Homo sapiens: one gene and its partner. The protein of the gene in region 1 interacts with the protein of each later gene in a pairwise test. Each region holds a gene or a part of one and is shown in the gene's direction. Other genes may lie near its edges.

Region 1 (7,027 bases):
TATGCCTACATGGACCCGCGTGTGCACATGTGTCTGTGTGTTCCATCGCTGCAGTCCTGTGTGGCCCTACCTCAGGGTGTGTGCATGTGTGTCTCTTGCTTCTTCCACTGTGTCTCCAAGTGTGTTCAAGGGCTAGTGTATGCATGTGTGCATGAGTGTCTCTCACCCCACCTTGAGCTCAGCCATCCTGGGGTGGCACCCTACCCATACCCGGCCAAGTGTTTGGGGAGAAAAGGGCTGTTGGTTCTAGGATGTGCCAAGCATTTGTGCAGGGCTTGACCTGACCCTCGGTCTGCCCCCAGGAAGCTCCGTGTGCCCAGCTGGGGCACAGCCCCAGCTGATGCCCCAGAGGGGCCACCCATCGCAAGAGGGGCTTTGGGCTCTGCCCTCCCTCCCCATGGCGCATGGGCCAAAGCCTGAGACTGAAGGACTGTTGGACCTCAGCTTCCTGACAGAGGAGGAGCAGGAGGCCATTGCTGGCGTCCTCCAACGAGATGCCCGCCTGCGCCAGCTGGAGGAGGGGCGGGTCAGGTAAGGCAGGGCAGACCCTGGCCGGGGAGCACCAAGAGGCTTGAGTGGCCCCCATCCTGCTCCCTACCGACACCACTGCCTGTCAGATGTCTGCGTGGTTCTTGGTTTTGCCCTTCAGTCTCCTCTGGCCTTGGCCAGCTCACAGCTCATCACTTCTCCAGGGGTGACTGCACCAGCTTTCTCGCCAGCCTCCCTGCCTCCAGGCTTGCCTCTTGGGCCCACCTCCTGCAGCTGGTGCTCCCCAGATCTGTCTGCTTTTTTTTTTTTTTCTTGAGACAGAGTTTCATTTTTTCGCCCAGGCTGGAGTGAAGTGGCACAATCTTGGCTCACTGCAACCTCCACCCCTCCGGGTTCAAGCGATTCTCCTGCCACAGCCTCCCAAATAGCTGGGATTATAGGCACATGCCACCATGCCCAGCTAATTTTTGTATTTTTAGTAGAGATGGGTTTTCGCCATGTTGGCCAAGCTGGTCTTGAACCTCTGATCTCAGATGATCCACCCGCCTCAGCCTCCCAAAGTGCTGGGATTACAGACGCGAGCCACCGTGCCTGGCCAGATCCGTCCTTAATATCCCCGCTGAAAACTTCCCCTGGCTCCCCAGTATCAAGGGCAAGCTCCTAGGCATGGTCCACTGGGCCTCCCTGGTCGGTCCTTGCCAGCCCCCACCATCTCCTCTTTCACCATAACTCCGACCCGACACACAGACACAAAGTGACCCCTCCAGCCACTCAGGTGCTCCCCAGTCCCTGAACCCACTCTTCACTTCTATGCCTATGCTGGTACTTCTTCCTGGAAGAGCACAGTTGTAGAAGAGCATGGGCGTTACAAGCAATGTTTGGGGACAGACACTTCCTAGCTACGTAGCCTTGGCAACTCACCTGACCTCCTTGAGCACCATGCTCGTCGTCTGTAAAATGGGGCTAAGGAGTCCTACTTCACTGATTTAAGAGGAATTGGCCAGAGATAGTGGCAACGCCTGTAATCCTAGCACTTTGAGAGGCTGAGACGGGAGGATTGCTTGAGCCCAGGAATTCAAGACCAGCCTGGACAACACAGTGAGACCCCATTCCTACAAAATATAAAAAATTAGCCTGGCGTGGTGGTGTGCGCCTGTAGTCCCAGCTATTTAGGCAGCTGAGGTGAGAGGATTGCTTGAACCCAGGAGGTCAGGCTGCAATGAGCCATGATCATGCCACTGCACTCCAGCCCGGGCAACAGAGCAAGACCCTGTCTCAAAAAAAAATAATAAAATTAAAAGTATAATAATTATTATCCTTCTCTACCTGGAGAGTTCCAATTTGTCTTTTAAGAAGAAATTCAAGGCTGGGCACAGTGACTTACAACATTGTGGGAGGCTGAGGCAGGTGGATTGCTTGAGTCCAGGAGTTAGAGACCAGCCTGGGCAACATGGAAAAGCCCCGTCTCTACAAAAAAATATATAAAAAATTAGCTGGGCATGGTGGCACACGCCTGTAGTCCCAGCTACTCAGGAGGCTGAGGTGGGAGGATCACTTGAGCCTGGAAGGTGAAGGTTGCAGTGAGCTGAGATTGCGCCACAGCACTCCAGCCTGGGCATAGAGGGAGACTCCATCTCAAAATAATTAAGTAAATAAATAAATAAAGGCAATTCAAATGTCACCTCCTCTGGGAAGCCCTCCTGGATTCTCACAGGCAGAGCTGGCTCTTCTTACTTCTATCACATCATCCACCTCACTACAGTGTACTTGTCTCTTCTGGACTTGGTCTCCCCAGCAGCCCGAGCTCCTCCACAGCACAGATCAAGTCTGATTTGCTGTTGGGTCCCTGGCCCCTGGTCCCAAGCCTGTTAACAATGTAGGTGGCGGGAATGTTGCTTGGGTGAGTCATGACAGCCACACCCTCCCCCTTCCTCCAGCAAGCTCCGGGCCTCAGTGGCAGACCCTGGGCAGCTGAAGATCCTGACAGGGGACTGGTTCCAGGAAGCACGCTCCCAGCGGCACCACAATGCCCACTTCGGCTCTGACCTTGTCCGAGCGTCTATGCGCAGGAAGAAGAGCACCAGGGGTGAGAGGAGATCCTCGGGGCAGGGCAAGCCATGTGCCGTCCAGGGCGCTGGCTGTATGTGGACAGGGAGAGAGGACCACTAGGGCTCCAGTCCTGGCTGCCCCCAGTACTGTGTGTCTTTCAGTGGGCAATGCCCCTCCGTGGGCATGGGGTGGGTGGGTATCTCCCAGGGCCTCTCCCGAGTCACAGCCAGGCTTCCTGAGCATGGGGGCTCACAGAACTTCTCACCTGCGCCCAGGAGACCAGGCTCCAGGCCACGACAGGGAGGCTGAGGCTGCTGTGAAAGAGAAGGAAGAGGGGCCAGAGCCCAGGTGAGGAGGAGTCTCAGGAAGGGGGAGATGGTGCCCACCAGTCACCAGGGTCCCTCCCTCTGAGAGCGTCCTCTCCCTACTCCTAGGCTCACCATTGATGAGGCCCCTCAGGAGAGGCTCAGGGAGACTGAGGTAAGTGAATGAGCCAACATGTGAGTACAGTGTCCCTGGAGGGGAGGTGGAATGTGCAGGGGGCAGGGGGGAAAGAGCCCCAGCCTGGGAATGGGGAGACCCTGGAAATGTTCCTTCCTGTGTCTGCACCTCATCACCTCCTGGGTGGAACAGTGGTGAACGGTGGGGAACGGTGGTGAATGGTGGTAAACAGTGGTGAACGGTGGTGAACAGTGAGTGGTATATGGACCCAGCCTCTAAGGGAACTTCTGAATCTGGCTATTAAGGGGTGAAGTGGGGCCAGGCACGGTGGCTCATGCCTGTAATCCCAGCATTTTGGGAGGCTGATGTGGGAGGATCGCTTGAGCCGAGGAGTTCAAGACCAGCCTGGGCAACATAGCAAAATGCCCCCCATGTCTATAAAAAATAAATAAAAAAAAAAGGCCGGTCGTGGCAGCTCACGCCTATAATCCCAGCACTTTGGGAAGCCGAGATCACCTGAGGTCAGGAGCTCAAGACCAGCCTGACTAACATGGAGAAACCCCATCTCTACTAAAAATACAAAATTAGCTGGGCATGATGGTGCATAACCTGGAATCTCAGCTACTGGGAGGCTGAGGCAGGAGAATCGCTTGAACCCAGGAGGCGGAGGTTGCAGTGAGCCAAGATCACACCATTGCACTCTAGCCTGGGCAACAAGAGTGAAACTCTGTCTCAATTAAAAATAATAAGAATAAATTTAAAAAAAGAAAAAAGGTTGTCTACCAATGGGTCAATATAAAAAATAAAAATAAAAAAAGGAGTGAGAAAGGAATGGGACTGGCCTGGCCTGGCAGAGGTGGAGGACTCAGGTACGAATGACCCCACCAATGGGAGTAGGGAGTCAGGCGGCACAAGCCCTGCGGGGTGGGCTGTGAAGCACTGGTCTCACCGCTCCTGCAGCTGGCTGCCAGCCCTGCCCGGAGGGCTGCCCTAAACCTGAAACTGGGGTAGCTGGCTGGAGCCCTATGACCTCTGACCCCAATATGACCTTTGACCTCTTCCTCACCAGCCCCCGTACTGTGACCTCTACCCCTTTCTTCCTTCAGGGACCTGATTTCCCATCGCCTTCTGTCCCCCTAAAGGCTTCAGATCCTGAGGAGGCGTCCCAGGCCCAGGAAGGTGAGTGGGAGCGCCTGTTGGGGAGCACGGAGAGGTTTCGCGGGTCAGAGGCAGCTCTAAGGGGCCCCAACCACCTGTGTTCACCCTCGTCACCCCCACTCCCACCCCGCGTCGGAGGTGGGGACGATCCCAGGGCAGCACCGGGGCCTGAATCTGCAGCTCGCTGGGGTTGTAAACCAGTTCCTACAAATTTGCTTAGGGGAGGGCAGGAGAGGGCTCGCTTAGCATCTCGTGCCCCACCCCAGATCCTGGCCAAGGAGACCAACAGGTCTGTGCCGAGGAGGCTGACCCGGAGCTGGAGCCCGCGTCGGGGGGAGAGCAGGAGCCGCGGCCCCAGCAAGCCCAGGTAGGCGGGAGTGGCCCGTGGCTGCTCTCAACATCCGGAGCGGACTCCGGGCGGGGAGCGCTCCTGCCCAGGGCTGCGAGCCGCCCGCGACCCAGGGCGCTCGGGGCAGGGGTGGGGAAAGAAGGGGCGCCCCGTCACTTGCCCCCTCTGCAGACCAAGGCCGCGTCCCAGATCCTGGAGAATGGGGAGGAGGCCCCGGGGCCCGACCCCTCTCTCGACCGCATGCTCAGCAGCAGCTCCTCGGTGTCCAGCCTTAACTCCTCCACGGTGAGGCGGGAGGGAGGGGACCCGGGCGGCCGGGGGGTGGACCCGTTCCGATGCGTAGCCCCTGCCTGCCCCTCCCTCGCCGCGGGACCCACCGCTGCAGCCCCCCAGCCTGCCACCTATGACCCGGGTCTGAAGCCTCCGCGCTGCCCGCGGCCCCGACGTGAGCCCTGCGAGCGGCCCTGACTCCCACCCACTCCCGTCCGCAGCTGAGCGGCAGCCAGATGAGCCTGTCAGGCGACGCGGAGGCGGTGCAGGTCCGCGGCTCCGTGCACTTCGCGCTGCACTACGAGCCGGGCGCCGCCGAGCTGCGCGTGCACGTGATCCAGTGCCAGGGCCTGGCCGCCGCCCGGCGCCGCCGCTCGGACCCGTGAGTGCCCCGCCGGCCAAGCGGGGCGCGGCTGTCACAGCCCAGCCCACCATTCACAGGGTCTCGGCCTCCTCGTCCTCATCTTCAAAATGGGAACAACAGCGTTATTGGGAGGCGTGCGATTAAGCGAGACAATCCCTGTAAAGCGCTTAGCACGAGGCCTGGCACGTGTTCGGGATGGTGGCTGGGGGAGCCCACAGGCAGGGGAGAAGGCTCTGGGAGGGCCCCTCCTCACCTCGGGTTCTCACCTCCCCAGCTACGTCAAAAGCTACCTCCTCCCGGATAAGCAGAGCAAGCGCAAGACGGCGGTGAAGAAACGGAATCTGAATCCGGTTTTCAACGAGACTCTCCGGGTGAGGCTGTGACCACGATGCGGTTCCCCGTTAATGAACTGGACGCCCCCTTCCTGCGGGGCTAGGTGGCAAGGGCAGCCAGTAACGTCATTGCCCGGAGGATCGGCGGAGGGGGCCCATTAACTCGTTATCCAGTGTTGTCAGCCTCGTGGTGGGCGTGGTGATAGTGCAGGTCCCCATTAATGCCCTTAGGGGCTCCCCAGAATTCCATCATGGTAGGAACGCGGTAGGACCTGCCTCAGCCAACTCGCGCAGCATCTACGCGGGCCACCAGCAGTGCTCCACTAAAGCTCACCTCCTGTCCTCAGTACTCCGTCCCGCAGGCCGAGCTTCAGGGCCGCGTGCTGAGCCTGTCTGTGTGGCACCGCGAAAGCCTGGGTCGCAACATCTTTCTGGGCGAAGTTGAAGTGCCCCTGGACACGTGGGACTGGGGCTCTGAGCCCACCTGGCTCCCCCTGCAGCCCCGGGTGAGGCAGCCAGGCCGCGTGGGGAGACCTGCGGCCCGGGTCTCCTGCATTTACCCCACCAGGCTCTCCCGCAGCCCCCTCACACCCCGCCTTCGACAGAACCTCCCCTCAACCTCTTAACCTCATGGCCCCAGGCGAAGCCCGGCCGGCCACGGCCCCTTCCCCGAGGGCGCTAGGACCCCTAGGTTCTGCCCCTGCAGGCCCCGCCGTCTCTTCTAGCCGCACCCCATCCGGGTCTGCAGACCCCACCCTCCTGAGGCCCCTTTCCATTAGCCCCTGCTCCACGATAAGCCCGCCTCTCGCAGGTCCCACCCTCTCCCGACGACCTTCCGAGCCGCGGGTTACTCGCCCTGTCCCTCAAGTACGTCCCCGCCGGCTCCGAGGGTGAGTGACAGCCGGAGAGGCCAAGCTGGACACGCCCTGAAAAGCGGGAGACTCCAGTCCCCGGGTTTGGGGGCGGTGGACTCCATCCGTGTGCGGGCCTGAGCCGAGCCTCTCCGCAGGCGCAGGACTGCCCCCGAGCGGGGAGCTGCACTTCTGGGTGAAGGAGGCTCGGGACCTCCTGCCGCTGCGGGCAGGATCCCTGGACACTTACGTACAATGGTGAGGAGTGCTGGCCCTCCGGGCTTCCCATTCTTTTGCCTGCAGTGGAGTGCCCAACCTCCACAAACCCTTACTAATCAACCTTTGATCACGCAGCCTGGGCTTTCACCACTGAGCAGGGGTGAAGGGGACGGTTTGAGCAAAGGCCTGGAGTCAGGGAAGTTGAGGACACCTTTGAGGAGCTGCATTTCAGCGTGACTGGCGCCTATAGGACTTGTTGAAAAGCTGAGGCTGAGGGCTGCAAGGGTCCTTCCATAGAGAACCTGGGAGGCCAGGCTGTGGGGCTTGGCTGGGAACTTATAGTTCAGTGTAAGCTTCTAGGGGACTTCTAGGGGTGCCTCCAGGTGCTGCCCCCACTGTTAGAGAGTGAAATGGAGGTGGGCGGGTCACTTCTGGGTGTCCACTCTGATGCAGCCAGAGGCTGCAGTACAGAGGTACTGTACTTCTGAGCAACACTGTATTTTGC
Region 2 (7,027 bases), on another chromosome or scaffold:
TGTATTATTAGAAGAAATCCCCTTAACCAAGAATAGCACATGGATTGAAAAGATCTTCCAGAGGAATATATGTGATGTTTTAATGAATTACTTAATAATAAAAGCACCTAACATTTACTAAATGTTTGGTGTTGACAGAGGTGCTTCATATATATTATTAGAAGAAATCTCCTTAAGCAAGAACAGCGCATGGATTAAAAAGATCTTCCAAAGGAATACATATGATGTATTAATGAATTACTTAATAATAAAAGCACCTAACATTTACTAAATGTTGGGTATTGATACAGGTGTTTCATATATATTATTAGTCCCCTTCATAATCTGAAATTTGTAAGGTGTTATCTCCGTTTTACAGATAAGCACATTGTGACTGGGAAGAGGAAGTAACTTGGCCAATATAACTAGTAAGCAACCAAACTGGAGATAAGCAATTAGATCAGGAATCTGGAATAAGAGCAGTCATTTGACATCACTTATTTATCAATAACTTGCTGGTTCCATCTGCTTTCTTTTCAAGGCCAACTGCAAGCAAATGCTTATTGTGAAAATCCAGATATAGTATTAATTGGCAACAAGGCAGACCTACCAGATCAGAGGGAAGTCAATGAACGGCAAGCTCGGGAACTGGCTGACAAATATGGGTAAGTCAGTTACACTGAGATGGCATGTGACTTGCACACTGCTGTTCAGCAAATGGAGCAGAGACATTAGATTGATATTAGAAGAAATCCCCTTAACCAAGAACAGCATGTGGATTAAAAAGATCTTTCAGAGAGATATATATGATGTATTAATGAATTACTTAATAATAAGAGCACCTAACATTTACTGTATACCTATAATGTGCTAGCAACAGTTCCTAGACATTAACTCATTTTAACCCATCATAACTAGAGTTATCTCATTTTATATATAAGAATTGAGTCACAGAGAGATTAAGTAACTGATGGAAGGCCACCCCACACAGTTAGTGACAGGCAGAGCTTAAACTCAATCCAGACAGTCTGATATCAAAGCTCATGCTCTTAAACACTGTATTCTTCTGCCTCTCAATCAATAGATGTAAAACTCCAAGAAATAATCCCTGACAAGGGTATGAAAATGTGGTCTTTATCCCAGCTGAGCTTGAATGGCAGCTTAAAAAAAAAAACAGAAACAACACCCCATGTAATTGTAAATTGACTTCCGTGGCAGAATCTGTCATTATTCTTTAAATTTAAAGTAGTTTTATCATATCTGCCAATTTTTTATGGAAGAATTCTCCCTAAAAGCTGTACAATTTACACGTCTTTCTTGAAACTTTTAAATCCAAATAAACATTGACTGTATTCACACAAATATCCTTATTCAATGCATACCTATTTTTTAAAGGAGATTTCCAGATAATTGAGTGGAAGGGAAGCAATATTTTAATAGTAACATTGGTCAGTAGTTTTATTGATCAGAGGGTATTTTTCCCCTCCTAATTTTTTTAAACAGTGATAATGCCTTGGCTTCAACTTCCTGACTACCTCTTGTGTCAATTTCCTTGCCCATAAAACTGGTTGTAATCATACTAAAGAGCAGCTCACCAATTTTTACTCACTGAGGAAAAAACAAGGATGCTTTCCAACTTAGCCAGCAAAACCATAATCATTTCACAATCTCTCAGCCAGCCGTTTTTGCATGTGTGATTCACTTGTACATCTTGCTGTATCTGTTCTGATTTCTTCCTCTCAAAAATATTTGCCATCCTTTCTATGCTAGCATACCATATTTTGAAACAAGTGCAGCAACTGGACAGAATGTGGAGAAAGCTGTAGAAACCCTTTTGGACTTAATCATGAAGCGAATGGAACAGTGTGTGGAGAAGACACAAATCCCTGATACTGTCAATGGTGGAAATTCTGGAAACTTGGATGGGGAAAAGCCACCAGAGAAGAAATGTATCTGCTAGACTCTACATAGAAACTGAACATCAAGAACCCCACCAAAATATTACTTTTAAAAACAATGACAAACCACACAATTGTTGTTGAGTAAACCACGCACAATGGCATGTCTTTCTTTTTCTGCCAGAAAATCTATTTTAAGAAACCAGAATAGTCAACAGTGTTCAAAAGAATTGACTAGTTATCCCTGAGGCCCTTTCAAACATGATCAAAGATTTCCCAATGTGATCTCATCATCATGGATACTCAATTTGTTTTTTCTTATAGAGAAAATGAGTATATAAGACAATATACAAGAAGAAATATCAGTGAGTTTTAAATCAGAACAAGTTACCTGTCACATTGAAGAAAAGGGTAGGCACTAAAGGGAGAACACAGAAAGAAGAATTTCTAAAATATTGGATTTACTTCTTATATTGAGTCAGATGCATACTTTTAGATTTGCATTGGGGAAAATGTACTAGCTAAAAATGGATACACAATGAAGAATTCTATTTGGCTAATTAAGAATGATATACTATGTACACCCAATAAGCTGTACTAGAATGAATAAATTACTGATAAGGTTACAAATAGGTAAATGTCACACTTCTGTTAAAATGCAGGAGGTAGTGTCATAATGCCGTCTTTATATTCTTAATAAATAGCACTTTGACAAGAACAGGACTGTAAATGATGAAGTACAAGACAAATACCCTGGGAAAAAAAATGAAAGTATGAGAAATTGGCATTTCTACAGCTGAAATTCAATGTATCTGTTAGAGATGTCTGGAAGGGTTACTTAGCCAAATTTTACTCAAGCCAATTAGGAGCTGATATTATCAGTTGGAATTAAGAGAACTCCAGAGGTTTCCATTTCAAACAAAATTTTAGAAATTGGTTTGGTGTTCAGCTTCACATTTCATTTTTTCTTAGCACATGTTGATAAAATAGTCACAAGGAGAAATTACCAGTTACGGTTTATTAAATCTCTTTTAAAATGCAGTCAAGGAAAACTAGCCTTGAATTTTTTTTAGATAAAATAAGATGGTGATATGAAACAAAAAGTGGCAATTATTGCAGGTTTCCTTTTAGTTTACAAAAGTACTGGAAACTAAATCATATTTCTTCCCTCCAAATTTCACCCATTCCTGACTTTGAATCAATTGCAGAAATGCAGGTGTGTTACTTTGTTGATCAATAACTTTGGAACAATTATGGATCAATTCTATGGTCACTCTGAATTTTCATGTCATTAATCACATAAAAATTGATAATACCTCATTCTGTATTACAATATGATTTTATTTTGCCAAAGGCAAGACACCTATAGTTGAGCTGTATTTTGGGGGATTGGGTGAGGAAGGACTTCTGATCTTATCTCAACAAAAAACTGGCCAGTATTTTTGTTAATGTAAAGCTTCCTTTTCTTTCTAAAAAATAGTAACAAAATTATTTTTCATTGGCCTATTCTGTTCTTGTGTCTAAACTAACATTACATTAATTTTTAATCTTAGTTTCTGATAAACACAAGCCATTCCTATCAAAATATTATTTATTTCAGTCAATTTTACCAAATAACAAAGACAATATATTTTCGTTTTTTTTTATTATGAGCATATGATTTTTTGACAGGCTGTTTCCTCGTCGTATAGATTTTTTCCAATCAAACCTACTTTTTCCATACTCTGTGCATATTTTTTGTGAAGTTATACACATTGAAGACCCTAAAAATCCCAGTCCATCATTCAGCTTACCTCTGCGAACTTCTATCTGGTATTGAATCAGTTTCAGAAACACAGACAGATCCAAGGAAATGTCTCTTTATAATGTTCTTAGGATGGACTAGACCCATAAATGTGCCATGAATCAAAATATTAATAATTTGAAAGCTTTCATGCTGTTAGCCCCTGATGAAATTCTCAGCATTAACTGGCCAGCTCCTCTGATTTCTGCAGCATCGCAACAGGTTCGAAGATGGGTTGTGGCTGGGTATTCCCTCCCATGGTGTTTCCTCTGGGATGCTCTTCATTATCTCAATGCCTGTGCCATGAAGATAGAAAACTGTAAGCTAACATTTAAGATGTTTCTTCTGGAAGGAAAGTGAGCAGGAACAAGTTATATTGCCACTGCTGTGGCAAATTTTGGTGAACTTTTGGGGTCATTATATCAATTTTTTCTTTGGATTCAAATTGTAATGTCCCCTGCATTTCCTTAATAGGGAATGTGAAACCTTTATAAAACTCTAAAAGTATTCTGTTTTGATATGTCTTTTTGTTTCTATTCATTTTCAGTTATATGATTGATTTACTTATGCCAAGATTCTGTCACTGTCAGTTATTTAATGAGTGTTTTTTCAGGGTCTGTTTTAAGATCATTATTTGATAGCTGTAGCATGAAGCAGAGGTTGATGATGCCCATAATTGCAAGACTATTCCTGTAAAAATAACAATTATTGGGTAATAACTTCAAGAGGAATGAGAAGTGACAAAATTGATTTAAAATATTGTTCTACTTATAAATAAATGCTTGATATAAAAAATTTTCTCCATAAAGTTTGACATCTGACCCCAGATTCTATGTAATCATTATTAGAAATTCCTTCTCTCATTATTTCAGGATTAGTAGTTCTGTGTAATTCATTTTACAATTTCAAATTGTTCTGGTGCCATAAAGTATACAGACTACTTTAAAGATTTCCAAATCCCCTAATTTACCCCACAACAGCATGTAATTTTAGCCAAGATATGTCCTGTTACTAAGTATCTCCCAATGCTTTAGTAAAACGTATTTAGGAGAAATGTTGAAAATGTACATGAAGCTCCTTTCTGATATAGAAACCATTTCTGGAGTATTTACACTGGTTTGATGTTTACATTGCTCTAACTCGGTGCCTCAGATACCTCTGTGACCAAATTTGTCTCCAACCACATAGCTCATTTCCTATAATGTTATATCATAGGAAGCCCTCACAGAGACACTAACACAGCTAAAGATCTTCTGATATTATCAGCAAGGGATGCAAGGACTTTATTGGAATCTGGAGAGTTTAACTGCCTTCTCTTGGTCTCCTCACTTACTTCTTATGAAGTTGGCATTACCTGAGACTCTTAGCTGTGATTAGGTACAAGCTTACCTTTTAGGGTAGAAAAAGAAAGATCATTTGAAAAATGTATCTAAAATAATCCAGAGAACATAATGTTTGTCTTGGTCTGATAATGATAAGAAGTCAAGGATTGGCAGAGAAAATACTAAACGCCAAGAGTTGAGCCTGTGGGTCTCTCCATAAGAGTTTTAAAACTCTTGCCAGTTACCACTTTATCCAATTTGCTATCATTTTCGTATTATCAGCTATCGCCCTGTAAAATATTCAAAACTAGCTATTTCTAAAGTAAACATTTTATCTGTTACTTTTAACCAGATAGGTGTCTTTGTCATCCTTCTACTATAAATTGTTCTTTGCCAACCTGTACAGGTAGATGAACCAGGCGAGAGTTTTAATCAGCCTTTTCTTGTCCCCTTTGTAAGAAAGAGATGCTTGCCATAGAGAAGGACATGAGTACATTAAAAATAATTTAATAGCCACAATATGATGTTCTTTAAGCTGCAAATTGAGTACACTGGGAATCAACAAATTTGATGAAGCCTGTCTGTCTCTTCACCAGTGGAGTGAGTGCAGCAGTTAGAAAGAGAAGCAATATTGTGCAACTGGTGCAGTGGTGAGTTAATCATAGTGTATAACCTTGTGTTCATGAAACAGGTTGTTCATTGTTCTGCATCTCTCTTCATTTAAAAAGGATACACAATTCTTTCCTCATTGCATATTACACCAAACGTTTGAGGGAAAAATCCTCATTCGTAAAGGATTTTGGATGTATAATCTAAAACTCAACAATAAAGAAATAATATTCCAAGTCTCTGGTTTCCTAAGATACATAATAACTGTTTATAAAGAAGGTCTAAGAGCTGATATTTGCCAAAGTGATAGAAGAGTTGTTTTTTCCTCTCTACTACCAAGCTTTAAGACATTAAAAGAAGTCTAGTGTATTTGAATATTTTAGAGAAAGCTTTATCATTTTTTAAGATGCCAAGATGCTGCCTACGTTTGCAAAAGTTGTCTAAGAATTCACCATGAGCTATATTTTCTTCTGGATCTTTGACCAAGGTGATGTCAGCTTATTTCTGGGGAAGGTGTTGAGCTCTTATACATGAAAATGGATATAGGCTATTCTCTGGGATGAGTGTCATTTCAATGCTTTATAAATCCATGAAGCTGCTTGTCTCATAAAGTAGAACTGATACAAATTTTGGTTGGATATATAGAGAATTTTATAAATGTATTGCCTTAGAATTTCTGGGTGGAGACCCAACTACAATGACATTGTCATGCCAGAACTATAAAGATAATTAGAGTTAAAAGTTGTTTAAATTGTGCCCTTAAATACAGCAGAACCTGGAGAAGGTCATACTTCAAAGGTCGATTTTGAGTCCGAATAAAGAAAGACCTAGTAACAGATAGTTTTTTTTTGTTCATTTTCTTCTACCAAGTAGAGGTTTATGCCCTCAGAACTAAACTAGTAAAAATATCTGAACAAAAAACCTTTCGTTGTTGGCATAAAAATGTGATACACTTAGAGACATTTTGTTTATTGCATATAAATCTAATTTTTCCATAAATTAGATTTATGATATTTTCATAAAGCACTTGATTAGTTTTTCAAGGCGTACCATCACAAAGATGCTTTCCTGCAGAGTTCTTTGTATCAACAGCCTATGGTTGAGATGTTTTCTCATTTCCTGTAGAGAGAGAATACCACTAACAAACAAACAAAAACTTTAGTGCCAAAATAGTGGAACTATTTTGTCATCTTTTGAGAAAAAAATATACAAAGAAGTCATCTTTTCATTAAGTGGATTCCCTGGTTCCTTTCCAGCTGGTTGTGGAAGTAATGGCTAACATCCTTCAGCTGACTTTGTCTACAAGGATTATTAGCAAATTCTGTAGGAGCAAGCATGTCTGACCTTAACTTAATGGATCCCTTATTCAATCAGTGGCTTCTGTCTTTATGTCTGTTGGCATATCAAAATGGTTTCTGTTCCTAGAAAAGTAATAA

What was found. The genes of interacting proteins can lie anywhere in the genome.
Region 2: the proteins of SYTL1 (region 1) and RAB27B interact in a two-hybrid assay, tested with the Homo sapiens proteins (one study listed by BioGRID).

What each region holds. Positions count from the first base shown.
Region 1 is NC_000001.11:27,344,995-27,352,021, forward strand, and holds part of SYTL1 (synaptotagmin-like protein 1), read left to right. Parts: intron 1-302; coding exon of another isoform or gene 303-340; coding exon 341-531; intron 532-2,426; coding exon 2,427-2,575; intron 2,576-2,810; exon of another isoform or gene 2,811-2,813; coding exon 2,814-2,886; intron 2,887-2,972; coding exon 2,973-3,018; intron 3,019-4,085; coding exon 4,086-4,158; intron 4,159-4,403; coding exon 4,404-4,504; intron 4,505-4,657; coding exon 4,658-4,771; intron 4,772-4,977; coding exon 4,978-5,138; intron 5,139-5,394; coding exon 5,395-5,491; intron 5,492-5,799; coding exon 5,800-5,958; intron 5,959-6,263; coding exon 6,264-6,342; intron 6,343-6,461; coding exon 6,462-6,561; intron 6,562-7,027.
Region 2 is NC_000018.10:54,887,475-54,894,501, forward strand, and holds part of RAB27B (ras-related protein Rab-27B), read left to right. Parts: intron 1-520; coding exon 521-644; intron 645-1,749; coding exon 1,750-1,939; 3' UTR 1,940-5,517; coding exon of another isoform or gene 5,518-5,599; 3' UTR 5,600-7,027. UniProt on the Homo sapiens protein: Small GTPase which cycles between active GTP-bound and inactive GDP-bound states. In its active state, binds to a variety of effector proteins to regulate homeostasis of late endocytic pathway, including endosomal positioning, maturation and secretion.